2 separate regions of the Homo sapiens genome follow, and region 2 is linked to region 1. The links come from fine-mapping of genetic effects on gene expression. A gene starts in region 1. The other region holds a variant in brackets. All regions are shown on one strand. Distances are between the middles of the regions.

Region 1 (8,341 bases):
TATATATTTTTCTGAGTGGACAGCTTTTATTCCTTTTATCTTCAAATGAGTTCAGTGATTCTCAAATTTGGGGCTGTTCCTTGCTTTCCATTACTACCACCTCTTACCTTTGTTCATGACCTCATTATAGCTTATTCAGATTATTGCAATAACCTACCCAGTTTCTTTGCCTCTAGTCTGAACCCTTTCCAATGTATCTCCAGGTTGCAGTGACAGTCATCACTTTCTTTCTTTCCTTCCTTCCTTCCTTTCTTTTTTGAGACAGGGTCTTACTCTGTCACTCAGGCTGGAGTGCAGTGGCACAATCACAACTCATTTTCACTGTAGCCTCGAACCCCCAGGCTCAAGCAGTCCTCCCGTCTCAGCCTCCCCAGTAGCTGGGACTACAAGCATGCACCACCATGCCTGGCTACTTTTTTGTTGTTATTGTTTGGTAGAAACGGGGTCTCTCCATGTTGCCCAGGCTGGTCTCAAACTTCTGGGCTCAAGCAATCCTCCTGCCCTAGTCTCCCCAAATCCTGGGATTACAGGCATATGCCACCGCACATAGCCAGTCATTTTAGAACATGAATCTGATCAGGGTCACTCTTCAGCTCCGAGGTCTTCAGTGGCTCCCAGCTTATGATAAAGTAATCTCTACCATGACAAATAATACCCTTCATAAAGGCTTATTCCTTTGCATGCATCTCTAGTCATTTTCAGCCCAGCAATAACAGACTTTGAATCTTCTGTACCTCACTCGAGCTCTCTTTTACCTTAACCCTGCCTTTGCATATTCTACATGCTCAGTCTGGAATGCCCTTCACTGCTCCTCCTTCCCTCCTTGCCTGGGTAATTCCTATTTGTTCAATATTCAGCTTAAGCAATATTTCTTCTGGGAAGTATTCCATTAGAACTAAGTTTAAGAGGCCCTCCTGTGTGCTCTGAATTCCTCCATGCTTATACCTATGGTAATAATAATTCTCAAACATTTTGGTCTTGAGTCCCTTTACATTCTTAAAGATTATTAAGGACTGTAAAATGCTTTTATTACTATCCACATTATAAATTAAACCTGAGAAATTTGGTATTTTGAGATTCATTTAAAAATAATTATAAGCCCATTATGTTAATAGAAATGACGCATTTTTTTCTTAGAAACCGAGATTGAAGGCAAAATGATGCATTTTTATGATAAAATATTTTTCCAAAAAATTGGTGAGAAGAGTGGCATTGTTTTACATTTTTCAAACCTTTTTAATGTCTGCTTTAATAGAAGACAGCTGAATTCTCCTATCTATGTATTCTTTATTTTTTTCCAACTTTTATTGTAGGTCCAGGGGTACATGTGAAGGTTTGTTACATAGATAAATTCATGTCATGGGGGTTTGTTGTACAGATTATTTCATCATCCAGGTATTAAGCCCAGTGCTCAATAATTTTTTCTGCTCCTCTCCCTCCTTCCACCCTCCACCCTCAAGTAGACCACAGTGACTGACGTTTCCTTCTTTGTGATCATGAGTTTTCTGTGTATTCGATCTGTTGTGATATGTTTTGGTTGAAATATATGAGGGAAATCTGATCTCATAAAGATAAGGTGTTGGAAAAGGGAAAACTACTTTATAGCCTTTCCAGATAGTTCTAGATATTATTCTTTGATACGGTACCAAACTTACATGTGGTAGTTTCTTAGCCTTCATTGCAGTGTGGACTGAATCTGAAACCACATCAATTAAGCACTGAAATCCATCAATCTATCTTGCACATACCAGAGGCTTTTTGCCTTTGTAATGGCACCCACTGGCCATTTGAAAAATAGGTGTCCACTAAGTTGTAAAGATCACAAAAATGTTGACATATTTCATTATATAGTCAAAAATAAATTGTTAATATAATGCTTCTTTTACTAGAAAAGTCTTTAAGTACTGGCAAGCTGTCAAGCTCAAGCTGGTGGATACAAGTGTAATAAAATTTGTATTTTTAGGTGAAAATTCAAAGAATTACACTAGTGCTTTTTCCGGAGACAACCATTTCACTTGGGCATGTAGCGGCAGTAGTTTCCATTTTTTCACACATATTCTTTAAAAGACGTGTAAGCAAGGATGGATTTGAAAAAAAAATACAATTTTTAGTTATTTGTGAAGGACATTTTTAAAGTGAAACTAGCATACTTTAAAACCTTAAATGTTGTATGATGTGAAGAATACAAAATGCAACTACCAGTACAAGACTGGCGCCACTGCCTTGATTGCTGCTAAGGTGTCAGCAGTTTAATCTTTTACGTTACCAGTGCAAATGGCAACAAAGTGAAAAAGGTCAAGAAACTCTTAATATTATTACGAAAATCGTTTTGACCTTGCCAACTTACTGAAAAGGTCTCGGTACCCTTAGGGATCTGCGGAGGGCATTTTGGGAGCAGCTGCCATGGACTCACTACTGTTGTCTCTCATTAGGTTGCAAGTTCTATGTGAACTGTCTTTAACTGTCTGTTACGTGCCCTTGCCTAATAGTGCCTGGGACATAGCACTCAATAAACATCAACACCTGTGGAACGAGGGAATTAAAAACAGGTTATAAACAACCCCTGCACAGCCTTCATCTTACTGCCTCTTTCCTTAATTCAACCTGAACCTACGCATTTTGTAAAATTTTGTTTTTTTCACAATTAGGACGCCTGCCAACTTTTAAAAATAGTTGGAGTTGGGGTGCTGCCTGTATGTGATAAGGCTGCCCTATAGTTTGGTCAAGTGTTCTTCCGTGTTGTCCAAGAGTCATTCCTTCTTTACAGTCCCGCACCAGTAGGCCAGGCCGCTTGGTTTCCCAATCCGAGACCGGAAGGAACCGGGTAGACATGAGCACAAGACTCTCATCGACTTTTGGGGAAAACAAAAACACCGATAAAAATCCAGGCGGTGAAACGAGCAGCAACAGCCCCAGGGACCCGGGAGCTGGAGGCCGCAGCCGCGCGAGAACCGCCGGGTTGCCGGGGCGACGCTTCCGGCTGGCGCGCGCAGCCCCGGGAGCAGGGGAGTTGTGAAATGGGCGGCTAGATCTGCCCGGCGCTGTGAATTCGCCAGCGGGAGCGCGCTCGCGGCCGCGCGTTCTCCGCTTTCCCGGCTCCGTCGCTGACGCGTCGTAGACGTTGGGGAGCGGGAAGGCAACGGCAGCGGGATCGGGATGAACAGCGGCGGCGGCTTCGGTTTGGGCTTAGGCTTCGGCCTCACCCCCACGTCGGTGATTCAGGTGACGAATCTGTCGTCGGCGGTGACCAGCGAGCAGATGCGGACGCTTTTTTCCTTCCTAGGAGAAATCGAGGAGCTGCGGCTCTACCCCCCGGAGTAAGTGCTGGAGCTCGGCTGGGGGAGGGGCGCGGGCGCCATAGAGACCTCGGGAGCCGAGGCGTGGAGGAGAGCGCGGACGCGGGCGCGCGGTGCATGTCACGTGATCGCGCCGGCTTACCTTGGTGCCCATATTTGATTAGGGCACCCGGGTTCCGCCGTCCTGCTCTCCTTAGTCGGATTTGGGGGGTTAACTACTGCACGGAGCCCTTACCAAGGATTTAGAATGGTTGCCCTTTCTGTGCCTCCGGGACTTGTGTTCGCTGCTGGGTCTTCGAATTCCGTGCCCCCACCCTCTTATTTCCCCCCGAACTTAAGATGGCCGCAGGTGGGCCCGGAACAGCCCTCATGGCAAACGTCTCAGAGCGTTTTTCCACTCTGAAAATCGCGGAGACCGCGCCTGAGCCACAGTCCAGTTTTTAAGGCCTTGGTGTCAGGCCGTTTTGCTGACGAGAAAGCCTGCTGCTGGTGACAAGATGGAACTGGGGCTGTGTTTGTTTCCCAGGACGGTCGCACAAACTTAGCATTTTGGTTTATCTAACCGAGCGCATCCATGTTCCCAAAGATCATGTCTGTTAGCCCTTTTGACAGCAGATTAAATTTTCCTCCTGAAAGGTCACACTGTCCCAAAGCTTTCAGAAAAAGTGTAAGTCGGTGCAGGGTTATCCCTCCCGTATACATTTAAAGTCCAGATCTTGGCTGGCATTCACAGCTCGCGGCCACTTCCCAGATAGTGTATTTTGGAATGGTAAAATTTCCCTCGTACGATATTATTTAGAAAACTCGCAAGGGGTTTGTAGGTTGTTCACATTCTTGCACACAAACTTTTTTTCTTTTTTAATGGTAGATCTTACAGTATTAAGATCCTCCGTTTTTTGTTCATTATATCAAAATCCTTTGAGGGAAGGGGTAATTGTTACCCAAGATTTATTTCTTTAAAAAAATTTTGATTTATTTCCTAGTGATGCATTTAGACCTATTTTTCTTTAGTTTTCTATCTCAGGTTATAACAGTGCTGTTGCATAACTATATAAAAGTTGTGTGGATATTTAAAATTTACTTTTTAAGTTTTTCTTCTCTGCTTTTTGTTTTGGAATATTTCATGCATACAGAAAAGTTGAAAGAGTAATACATTGAACATCCATGTTCCTTTTACGAGCATTTTGTCTGTTTTTGGCTACAGTTGATTATTAAAATTTCCCCAGTTATTTTAATAATGCTTTTTTGTCTGCTTTTGATCTAGTATGTAATTAGATAACACTGTCTCCCTTGAATATGCCAAGTAATCCATGTATTAATAGTTATCTCCTTTAATCTAGGACAGTCCCGTCCCCTTTTAAAGATTCTAAAGTCGTGACATTGATATTTTGTTTTGTAGTTCATTTTGTCTTGTAATATGACTCATAATCTGAGTTTATATAGATGAGATATATAGATGAGGTATATAGAGATATGTGTATATATATATCTTTATATTCGTGACGAGATTCAGGTAATACATTTTTGACGAGAATACTGCATAAGTGCACGCACGTACATTTTGATTGATTAACCGTGGCATTATTGCTTTAATTATCTTAACTTTTGGAAATGCTTTCAGCCATCTCAATTTAAGTTCTCAGAACATTTCTTAATAGTTGAGAATAATTGAGAATTGTTTGGGGGAGTGCCGTATCCTGCAGGCATTGGAATCAATCAGTAAAATACTTTGTACATGAACCTTTGTAAATCTTGCTTTCAAGGCTGTGGTAATAAGGTATCTCATAGGTAGAAGAAATATATTGGAGAATGTTCTTCATTATCAACATAATATTTATTTGGTTGAAACCTGGGTTTGGGTGACAACACATTGCCATAACTGACAGTAATGGGCCACTTTTTTGAAATCAGATGTTATTACTTGGAATTTAAAAGTCAAAGAGAATAAAAAGTTCTTCACTTAAACATATGGAAGATTACGGTAGTGTATTTCACAAACTGTAACACATTAAGCAAAATTGTTGCATACGTGTAATATATATAGGCCAGGCAAAATCCTTAACTAGTTTTTCCCTAAGTGCAATACTAGATCCCTCATTCATGTTTTGCAGCAATACTGACATGCTTTATTCACAGGTTTTCTGCTTCGTAATGAAGTTGTCATTGCCTGGTCCTTATATTAGAAGACGTGTTTGCAAATTTGGACTGAAATGGATACAAAATGCAATAGTAGTAGTTGTATTGAAAATATATTGTTTTGCAGTGTCACATAAATTATTTTATGACATCTTTAGAGTTGAGTAGAAATTTAAATTGTTTTAAAATTGGAAATATATTTATTTTCAAATACATATTTCCAGGTATATTGGAAATACATTAATAGAATGTGAAAATAGTTTCTCATTAAAATTTTATGATTGAGCCAGGTGTGGTGGTGTGCACCTATAGTCCTAGCTACTCAGGAGGCTGAGGTGGGAGAACAGCTTGAGCCCAGGAGTTTGATTCCAACCTGAGTAACATATTGAGACCCCTATCTCTTAAAAAAAAATGACTTAAATGACTTAAGTTGCTAATATGAAAATTCAGATTTTAAATTTAATTCTTTTGGCATGATGCAGTGGTTGAGTTTCATCTTTATCTTTTAAACGTTAAGAATTTTTTAAGGCTAGGGAATTCTTGTGAACATTCACTGTAAGCATTAAGAATTCTTATTTGTAGTTTGTCATCCTTTTTTTGTGCTGCCAGTTGATAAATATGTAGAATTACTATTAACTTTTTGCACAATAAATCAATCTCACAGCTTGTGAAACTTTCTTACACAAGTAAGAAATCCTTGTTGTTTTTTCAGTAAATTTTTCATTGAGGTTTAATGTACCTACAGAGAAGTGCACAGGTCGTAAGCGCAGGTTGATGAATCTTTACAAAGTAAACATACCTATATAACCAGCACACAGTCAGGATTATCTGCACCCTGTAAGTTCCCCGTGACCCCCTTCAAGTAACTAAAACCTGAAGGGTAAGCCTACCCTGATTTGTAACACTAGACATTTTTCCTGTGTTGATTTTTTTTGCTTGTTGATTTCCGTCACTTCTCTGGTCTTCTAAAGTTCTAAGAAAGAATGGAAAAATCTGTCAACTACTTAAGTTTATTTAGTTAAAAAAAATGTAACCACTAAAGCCACTTTATAGAAAATAGAGAAAAGGAAACAGCACTTGTGATCCCACCACTCTATCAAAGCTTCTCTCCATTTCCCTGTAGTCCTTTTCACATGCGTTAATAAATATTGGACATATTACCTCATTGGTTTTAAAAATAATTGTATAGTGCTATCATTATGTAATATATGTAATATAGCGTAATCAAAGGAATCACACTGTTATTTTACTTTTTTCACTTTGTCATAAGCATTTTCCATATTGCTGTCTTATTTATAGTAATATTTAGAGATTAGTAATTTCTGAGTGTATTGTGTGTTTTTGAAATTCTATTGTTGGATATTTTGATTGCTTTTTTTGGTATTACAAATTAGTGGATTTTAGCTAGAAATTGGGAGGTGTGTCTTTTTGATTGTCAACAATGATTAGAGGGCCTGTTGGCATTTAGTGGGTAAATGTTAGCAACTTATAAGTAGTCTTAAACAGGATGAATTGTGCTAATCCATAGGGCCACTGAAGCCCAGTGAAGAAACCCTGTTATAAATAATGCACCAACTAATATTTTTGTACATGATACTGTATGCTTCGCTCATGTTTTGGCATATCTTTTTTGGTAGGTCCTCTGTCCTCTAAAGGATGTGTATTAATGTACTGATAAAATACTGGACATATTATTACCTCATTGGTTTTAAAAATATTGTATAGTGCTATCATTATGTTTAATAAAAGACAAAATAACCAGTTAGGGCCAAGAAATTTAATTGATGCCCAAAAAGTTGGTTCTTTGGTTTCTGCGTGTACTACCCACTGAAAAGTTTTAATTTTTTTTGAAAAATTGATAAGATTTTGTATTTTAAAAAACCAAAACTTTAAGTCAACGAATGAGGTCAAACTAAAATCTGCTAAATTTGGGTACTGCTATTTTCTTCTTAAAATTTATTTCTAAAATTTTATTTATTTATTTAGTTAAGTAGAGACAGGATTTCACCATGTTGCGCAGGCTGGACTCAAACTCCTGGGCTTAAGCAGTCCGCCTGCTTTGGCATCCTAAAGTGCTGGGGTGACAGATGTGAGCCACTGTGCCTGGCCTGCTAGTTTCTATAGATGCATACATTTAGACCAAATGGAATATGTCATCCCTTTTTATGTGTTTTTTTTTCCCCCAAGGTCTTCTTCTGTTGCCCAGGCTGGTCTTGAACTCTTGGGCACAAGCAAGTACACATTTGTTTGATGAGCTATCTGTTTGTTGGCTTGCTACTCTAATAATTTTAGTTTATAATGGTCAAAATAAAATAGTGTTACCTTGCCTGAAATTTTCAAATATTTGCATTTTTATAAAGTAAATGTAAGTTGGTCTTTATTTTAAGGAAGGTAATTGGAAATGAAGATTAAGAAAATTGGCCGGGTGCAGTGGCCCACGCCTGTAATCCCAGCGCTTTGGGAAGCCGAGGCAGGCGGATCACGAGGTCAGGAGTTCGAGACCTGTCTGGCCAACATAGTGAAATCTTGTTTCTACTAAAAATACAAAAAATTAGCTGGGTGTGGTGGTGTGCACCTGTTATCCCAGCTACTTGGGAGGCGGCAGGAGAATCGCATGAACCCGGGAGGCGGAGGTTGCAGTGAGCCGGGATCCCGCCATTGCACTCCAGCTCGGGTGACAGTGTGAAACTCTGTCTCAAAAAAAAAAGGAAAAGAAAAGAAAAGAAAATTGCTTAAATCAGTGGAGTAGCCGTACCTAATATCCATACTTCCATGATGATGCTGTTCAGAACAGACCAACATTTTTTTAACCAGTTCCCAGGCTTCTGAAATGTTGGTGGCATGTCTTCAGATGTAGTTGCATTACAAACCAGACTCAGAATTCCTATTCCTGTGGATGTTTTAAGTTT
Region 2 (8,341 bases), 110 kb before region 1:
AATTAATGCCAGCAAATTATACCAGATGGTTCATTTTAATGAAATTAACCAAGTATCTGCTACGGTTTCTTCATATTTATAGTGTTCTCTCATTCTATTCTCACTCTCCACTTGGTTTAAAACAAAAATTGTATGGTAGGAGTCTTTGTTCTTCAAAGTTTGACAGAATATTGAGTAAAACAAATCAGATATACCTAGAAAATTTCCCTTACCCTTACCATATGAAGCAATAATTTTGCTATGAAAGAATGACATGTAGAGGAGAAGGTATACAGAGGTTTGGTTGTGAATTATAAAAGTAAATTGTTCTACTATTTAATGTTTATGAAAATAAATTGCTCAGCTATGTAGAACAGTACATGCAGTAATATAATTTTCATGAGCTGCTGAAGGCATGAGCAGAACAATTATTTATTAATTTATTCCCTCATCCATTTTGTGATTCTCAGGAACCATTTATTGAACAACTGCTTTGTGCCAGGCAATTTAAGGTGGGAACAATATTTAGAAAGTTACTTTAATACAATGTGGTTAAAAGACTTAATAGGACTAAGCTTTAGGATCAAAGATGGGGAAGATAACCAAGGGATGTAAAGGCAAATTTCTCAGAGGAGGAAATGCCTGCAGTGCCTGAATTATCTCTCAAAAGAGGAACGGGGCTGGGTATGGTGGTTCACACCTCTGATCCCAGAGCTTTGGGAAGCTGAGGTGGGAGGATCTTTTGAGGCCCGAGTTTGAGACCAACCTGGGAAACATAGCAAGATTCCGTCTCTGCAAATAAATTAAAACATTAGCCAGGTGGGGTAGCACATGCCTGTAGTCCAGGCTACTCAGGAGGCTGAGGCTGGAGGATCCTTTGAGCCCAGGAGTTCTAGGTTATAGTGAGCTATGAGCATGCCACTATACTCCAGCATGGGCAACAGAGCAAGATTCTATCTCCAAGATAGTTTTTTTAAATAAAAAAGAGGAATAGGATTTTTGTCTATTTTTTACCCCTTAAGGTGGGGTTTTCCTGTGTTGCCCAGTCTGATCTCAAACTTCCAGTCTCAAGTGATCTTCCCACCCCAGCCTCCTGAGTATCTGGGATTATAGGCCTGCACCACCATGACCAACTAGACATAAGATTTAAAGAAAAAAAAAGAGAACAGTGTTCTGGTTTGGAAGAATATCATGAGCATAAGCATTTAGGTGCAAAGCAGCATAGTATATTCCATAACTCTACAAGCAGATCATTGTGACAAGAGTGTAACAGTGAGACGGAAAAGGTAGAAAACGAGGCTACTAAGGCAGATAGAGATCAGTTGGTGGAGGATCTTCTATGCCATGCAGAGGAACCTGTATTATATCTCAAGGATGGCAAATAAGATTTTTTAAAATCTTGTACTCTTATCAATTATGAGTGGCTTCCTGAAAAATTGTGTTGCAGATTCTGACTTATGATCAAATTCAAGCTAGTGGAAAATTGCTGTGATTTGGGTGGCTGTGTAGTTTATTGTCCCTAATAGGACACTTTCGGGGGAGTGAAAGGGGCACCATTGATAATTACATGAGAACAACATGTATAAGTTGTGTCTGTCTCAGGCAAAATGGACATTTGTTCATTCTAGTCATGATCAATTATTCATATCTGCCATCAGTATAAAAGGAAGAAGTGATTTTTATGATAGATAATACGGAAACCAGTGTAACATTGAACAGGCAAATAGTATGATCACACTGATATTTTAGAAAGGCCTTTTTGGCTGCATGGTGGAAGATGGATTCATCAGGGGTTAGTGCCAAGCATGAAGGTAGGGGAGACTGAATTGGAGGACATTGTCATACTCTAGGCAACAGAACACGTTGCCTTGAACTAAAGTAATGAAACAGAACTGGGGGAAGAGCAGGTATTTTTGAGGAATAGTTTAAAAGATTGCATCAATAGAGCATGAAGCAATGCATGTATGTGAGAAGAGAGTAAAAGCAAAGATGAGGGTCAAAGATTTGGCTTCAGTGACTAGGTGGATAATACTGCCACAACCAAGAAAAGTAACCACAAATGAAAGAAATATGTTTATGGGAAGATGCTAAGTTCTAGTTAAACATGTTGAGTTAGAAGTATCTTTGGTATATCCAAGTTAGCCATGCATAGAACACGCTGGTGACCATGAACCTCCTGACTTCATTTTCTTCTGTATGGTTTCTGTGCTCTTGGTTTCTCTATTTAAAAATTTCTAACCTTCAGAAGCTTCTCAAAATTGCTCCTGAAGGCTTCATTTTCTTTTTTCAGTACTATTATAGGTTTATTCTTTGTGCTTATTTGTAAAAATATATTCACTTTATTTTAAAAGATTTGTGGCACAAGAAGAAATACACATTTGTTTCAGCCCATGATCGTAATTAACTTTTTCTAGGGAATGGTGTCATAGCTTTTGTTGTTTCTCAAAAGGAATTATATAAAATAACTTTTAAAATGTTAGTGATGCATGATGAATCCTGAGGAACCCCAACATTTAAATGGCAGTAGACTAAGAGGCTTAAAGAGAGTAGCCATAGAAGTAGAAGGAGAACTGGATGATGATGGACTCAAGTTAAGAGTGAAGAAGGAAGAGTTAAGACTGGCCTGAAGGAAGAAGTTGTTAATAGGATAAATGCTGTTGAGAAGTCAGTTCAGATTATATCTGAAAAATATCCATTATATTTGGCAGCTAGCTAAAGTAATTATAGAGGTATATGGCAAAACCCAGATTGAAGGAGTTTAAGGAATAAATAGATGATGAAATGGAATCACATAATGTTGATTACTCTTTAAGAAGGTTGGATGAGAAGGAAATGGAATGGAACATAAAGAAATTGATAGCTAGCAGCAGGAAAAGCGCAGGGATCCTTTAATATTGCAGAGCATGTTTACAGGTTGTTGGAAAGAAGCTGTGTGAGTAAGATTAAGAATATGAGGGTCTGGTGCGGTGGTTCATGCCTGTAGTCCCAACACTTTGGGAGGCCGAGGCGGGTGGATCACCTGAGGTCAGGAATTCAAGACCAGCCTGACCAATATGGGGAAATCCCGTCTCTACTGAAAATACAAAAATTAGCCGGGCGTGGTGGCGTGTGCCTGTAGCCCCAGCTACTCGGGAGGCTGAGACAGGAGAATTGATTGAACCCAGGAGGCGGACGTTGCAGTGAGCCGAGATCACTCCACTGCACTCCACACTGTAGCCTGGGTGACAGAGCGAGACTTTGTCTCAAAAAAAAAAAAAAAGAATATGAGAAGCAGTTGGATAATGGATGGAAACTGATGGAAAAGCTATGACAGGAATTCTTAACCTGTTGGAGAGAGCTTGGGTATGACGTTTGTGAAAGGGAGGAGAGGAAATAGTGTACATTATGATACTCTTAGAATGTAGAATTTTCCATACTCATAGCTGTTTTTTTTTTTAAGACAGAGTCTCACTCTGTCGCCCAGGCTGGGGTGCAGTGGCTCCATCTTGGCTCTCTGCAACCTCTGCCTCCTGGGTCCAGGCAATTTTCCTGCCTCAGCCTCTTGAGTAGTTGGGACTAAAGGCACTTATCACCACACCCAGCTTTTTGTATTTTTAGTAGAGACGGAGTTTCACCATGTTGGCCAGGCTGTTATTGAACTCCTGACTTCATGTGATCCACCCACCTCGGCCTCCCAAAGTGCTGGGATTACAGGCGTGAGCCACCAAGCACAACCTCATAGCTGTTCTTGAATCCTTTTTTTTTTTTTTAAGGAAGATATTTTCAGAACACAGTTTAGGAAACATAGAAGGATTTTCAGGTAACATGTAGAGCCTAGTTGAAGTATTATTAGTATCAGTACACAAATATGAGTACAAATTAATCACTCCACAAGTTTGTGGTGATACTAATTTGCTCAGCAATGTAATATAGAGAAAGCACACAACTGGAAGGATTTTGGGCTGTAGTTTTGCCAAGACAGGTGCAAGAAAAGAATAATGCAGCAAAGAGGTCTTGGTTTGTGGCAAGAAAGTGGTTTAAATAAGATACAGTGTGGTACAAAAGGGGAGTCAAAGACAGGAGTAAATGGTGGGAAGAATGTCAAAAGGTCAAAGGAATAGTAGTCTTGCTGAGGGTGATCAGCAA[G/A]TACTGTGAGTGCAGTGGAGTGGGAGGGCTGCATGATGTCTGTGTTACCATACTCTGCTGGTTGTCCTTTTACCTGACTGCTCCTCAGTCTCCTTTTCAGACATATTTGTTCTGCCTGTGCCTTACATGTTTGTGCTTCTCATGGTTACCCTAGGCTCTGCTTTAATTTCTCCCTACTTTCTCCTGAAATTGCTATCTGTATCCTCATTATTCTTAACAATATCTTCAGCCCAGTTCTTGTGCCAGAGCTTCACATTCATATAGCTCAATTCCTACTTAACATTGCCACCTACATGTCTCAAATTCAGCAAGCCCAAAATTGAGTATACCACGTTCTGCCCCAAATATATTTCCCCCACACCCCTCAGCTTCTTTAGCTTGGTAAATAATACTTGATGGAGGCAGAGGCCTGGAAATGCAACCCTTAACTACTGTTTTTCCCTGTACTTCAGTCCAGTTGATAGACAAGCCCTATTGAATCTTAAACATCCTAGTGTTTGTGTATTTTGCTTTATCCCTACTACCACTTCCCTTAAATACTGTTCACTGTCATCTTTCACTTAGACCTGCACTGTCCAGTACCATAGCCACTAGTGTCAGGTGACTGGTCCAAATTGAGATTTGGTGTGAGTGTAAGGTACACACTGGTATTTGTAGCCTTAGTATGAACAGATAATATATATGGTCATATTCCTAATTTTTTTCGATTATATGTTAAAATGATATTTTGAATATGTAAAGTTAAATGCATTATCAAAATTTCATCTTTTTTGCCATTTTATTATATGTGGCTACTAAAAAATTATAAGTAATCAGACTGGGCGTGGTGGCTTACACCTGTAATCCTAGCACTTTGAGAAGTCAAGGCAGGAGGCTTGCTTGAGGCCGGGAGTTTGAGACCTGCCTGGGTGACATAACAAGATCCCATCTCTTAGAAAAAGAAATAGCCAGGCACAGTGGCACATACCTGTAGTACCAGCTCCTTGGGAGGCTGAGGCGGGAGGATTGCTTGAGCCCAGAAGTTCTAGGTTACAATGAGCTATGATCATGCCACTGCACTCCAGCCTCCAGCCTGGGTGACAGAACAAGATTCTCTTAAAAAGAAAAGAAAAAGAAAATTATAAATAATCTGTGGTACTCATTTTTGTCTTACCTTACAGTGCTTTCGAACAGTGCTGACAGACTGTTGAGGTAGCTTCCTAATAGGTCTCTGCCTCCAGTGTTGCTACCAGTTCCAATCCCTTATTACCCATTCTGAACCACATTGTGATTTGAGTGATTCTTTAATCTGATCCCAGCACTATCCTACTTAAAACCTTTTCATTGTTTCTTTTTTCTTTATGTCATATGCCTCAAGAGCCTGCTCATCTTGTGGCTTCATCTCTACCCCATACACATTCATTCTCATTTCTCTAAATCAGTTCTGCTTTCTTGGAACATTCTTCCTTCTCTTTCTTACCTGGCTTCTTACCTTCTTATCCTCACCTTAGACTTTCTTTCAGGAATGCTTTGCTAATCATTCAAGATAGTGGTAAGTGAATTTCTCCTCCTGTATGTTCTTCTTGCACACTGTACCCTGTCTACCCTGTAATTTCACTTGGAATTACAGTAGCAGTTGCCTATTTTGTTACCTGTATTCTTCCTCTCATAAACTCTACAGTAAAGTCAGTAAAGATACATGCTTTGCTCACCACTCTGTACACAGGACCTGTCATAGTGCTTTGCAATATAAAAGGCTCTTAGGAAATATTCATTGAATGAGTGATCTTTATATTTCAGAGAAGAATATTTTAGGAATTATGGCATAGTAATAGAATATGTGAAATGAAATCGGATTAAAGATCTCTGAAGTTAGGTGTTCAGGGAACTGAGAGGCCAGATATACTGTTCTCATTCCTTTTTCTGTCTGTGCCTCATAAATAACAGGTGACTAGTTTTCTTATTACATCTTTGTTGACATGTAATTCATGTACCATACAGTGAACCCCTTTTAAAGGATACAATTCAGTGGTTTTTAGTATAGTCACAGAGTTGTGCAACAATTACAACAGTTTTAGAAGATTTTCAGGGTGATGAGTTTTTAAAAGCCTCCCATATAATTTTTATATGCTCATCTAAGGGGGCTTATTTTTTTCTTCTCACAAATTGTTCATCTGCTAAGAAGCCAAAAGTATGGAAATGTCATATGTGTTTTGTATATGTTGAATTACTCGTGACTTTGGAAAAATTTGGTGTAAAAGAGCCAGGAATAGATGAATACCACCAAGAGGCCAGTAGATAATAGGACAGGAGATTGACTATGGAAGGTATGGGTTATATGCCTCAAAGGAAAAGGAATTTAAATCTGAGGATAAGGGAGGAATGATGTCACAGCATTGTAAGCGCTACCCTCACCTCCTGACTTGGGGTGGATGAGGTAGGAGAGAATAAAACACCTGTATTTGAGGCCTGAGAGAAGCACTGTCTTTGGGAAGGGAGTAGAGCTACCGTTTCCATTATCTGAGAGTTAAGGAAATTGTTCAGGAATTTGAAATGTAGGGCAGATTTTGTTTGCTGAGGAACAGAAAGGAATGTTTAAATGGGAGTAAGATTACAGGATGGAATTAACTAGCTGGAAGGTTTTCATAGGAGTAGGTGCAAAGAATTAAGTAATAGGGTGACATGTGAGGGGAGAATTGGGTAGTTCTCTGTCCGTCTGGAGTCAGCCAAGGCTTTTATTGGTAGGATTTTAGGTGAATAGCAAAAAGAATTAGTTATATTAAAAAATAGATGGATAACATTTGTTGACTAGTTAGGGAAAAAATCATAAGAAAAAAGAAGGTCCAAATTTCCTGGGGGACTCCACCACCGAGTGACTTACTGGTGTCATTACTGTAGACAGGATACACAAGAGGAAGAAAAAGAAGCAGCTGATTGTTTTCATCATTCTCTTTTCAGCTGCTAACTAGAATAAACATTTAGATAACCAGACTAACTGTTCCACATTTTTTCCAAAAGCATCTTAGTGAAGGGGAATACTAGAGAGGGCAAAATAATATACAATGGAAAGGCTTATTTTATAACTGTATTAAATATATCACTGTGTTAATAAGTAACGGACTATGGATAAACTTAGTATATGAAATCTTTTAAAACGATATTTCAGTAGCTTGATTTACTTGCTTTATACTAAAAACTACATTTGTTGGATTTTAATATGGTTTCAAATCAATGCCTAAAGTGTTATCAAATCAATGCCTAAAGTGTTATTGTGTATAGTTAGATTTGTTTGTAACCTGCACATTGATACTTTATAGAAAAAGTGGTGTGTACTTATGCAGAGGAATTGCTGAATATATATTTGCTTTAGGGTTATTGAAAATTAAGCATTTATTTTCCTTCTCTAGTCCAAACCCCTGATACCTCTTCAAAAAGAAACTGATTCAGAGACCCAGAAAATGGTGCTTACCAACTACATGTTCCCTCAACAGCCAAGGACTGAGGATGGTAGGAATTTCATAATCGATTTTCTTGTTAAAAACAAATACTAATTTAAAAGGTGTGAAGTGAACTTTAAGTCTCAGAGACTTTTACCAGTTTGATGGGACTTCAGAGAATTGACCAAAACAGTTTGTTTCGAAATAATGGAAAAATAGGGCACGATTTCAGGGGTTGAATTTAGAAGTATAAGTGTAGCATATGCTTCCTTAAATGATTCCTTTAAATTAAACCGCAGTGTTAAAATTGATAACTTAAAAACATTTAGCTGTATGCTAGGAATACATGTTAAGTGTTATGTGATAAGAATTATTAAACCAAGAAATATTTTCTTCACCTGTGAACTTAATATTACACTTGGATCTACACACTGGATCAGGATAATCTGTTGAACTCTGACTATAAATACTACTCTTAAATTCTTTTCTTTATTTTGCCCGACAAGGGGGAGTATACCTTTTACTACTGGGCACAGATGTTTTTATAGATTATGGTATGACGACCTTTTAGACTAACGAGCAAATTGTTTTTAGTATATGTTGTACTCTCTGCGTGTGTGTGTGTGTGTGTGTTTATTGTGTTACACTTAAAGTAACTATTTTTTATGTATCTTCTTTCTGACACCAGTGAAAATCTCTGTGGTTTGAAATTATTTATAAATTAATTCTTAGTACATAGAAACACTGAAGAAAAAATGTAAATCAGTCATTTCAATCATAAGTCTTAATTTATAAATTATACCACGGGCAAGTTAAATAGG

Direction of the effects. Positions count from the first base shown, and alleles are read on the strand shown. Sizes are in standard deviations (SD) of each study's normalised expression.
With allele G in place of A in region 2, the expression in monocytes of the gene that starts at base 3,080 in region 1 is higher (moderate effect, 0.72 SD a copy in Fairfax 2014).

Evidence for each region. PIP is the estimated chance that this variant, and not a neighbour inherited with it, causes the effect.
Region 2: its variant is fine-mapped to the expression of SREK1 in monocytes (Fairfax 2014, PIP 0.95).

What each region holds. Positions count from the first base shown.
Region 1 is chr5:66,141,221-66,149,561 of GRCh38, forward strand. It overlaps SREK1 (splicing regulatory glutamic acid and lysine rich protein 1), which reads left to right and starts at 3,080. Exons shown (of 12, transcript NM_001077199.3): 1 at 3,080-3,317. The coding sequence starts at 3,157. RefSeq lists a silencer at 2,861-2,930 and enhancers at 3,111-3,390, 3,651-3,710, 3,771-3,820.
Region 2 is chr5:66,030,893-66,039,233 of GRCh38, forward strand. ERBIN (erbb2 interacting protein) reads left to right here. Exons shown (of 26, transcript NM_001253697.2): 15 at 7,491-7,590. Among named protein-coding and RNA genes, the nearest start is that of ERBIN, 110 kb to the left of the region's middle. The variant G/A (reference allele first, on the strand shown) is at 4,105.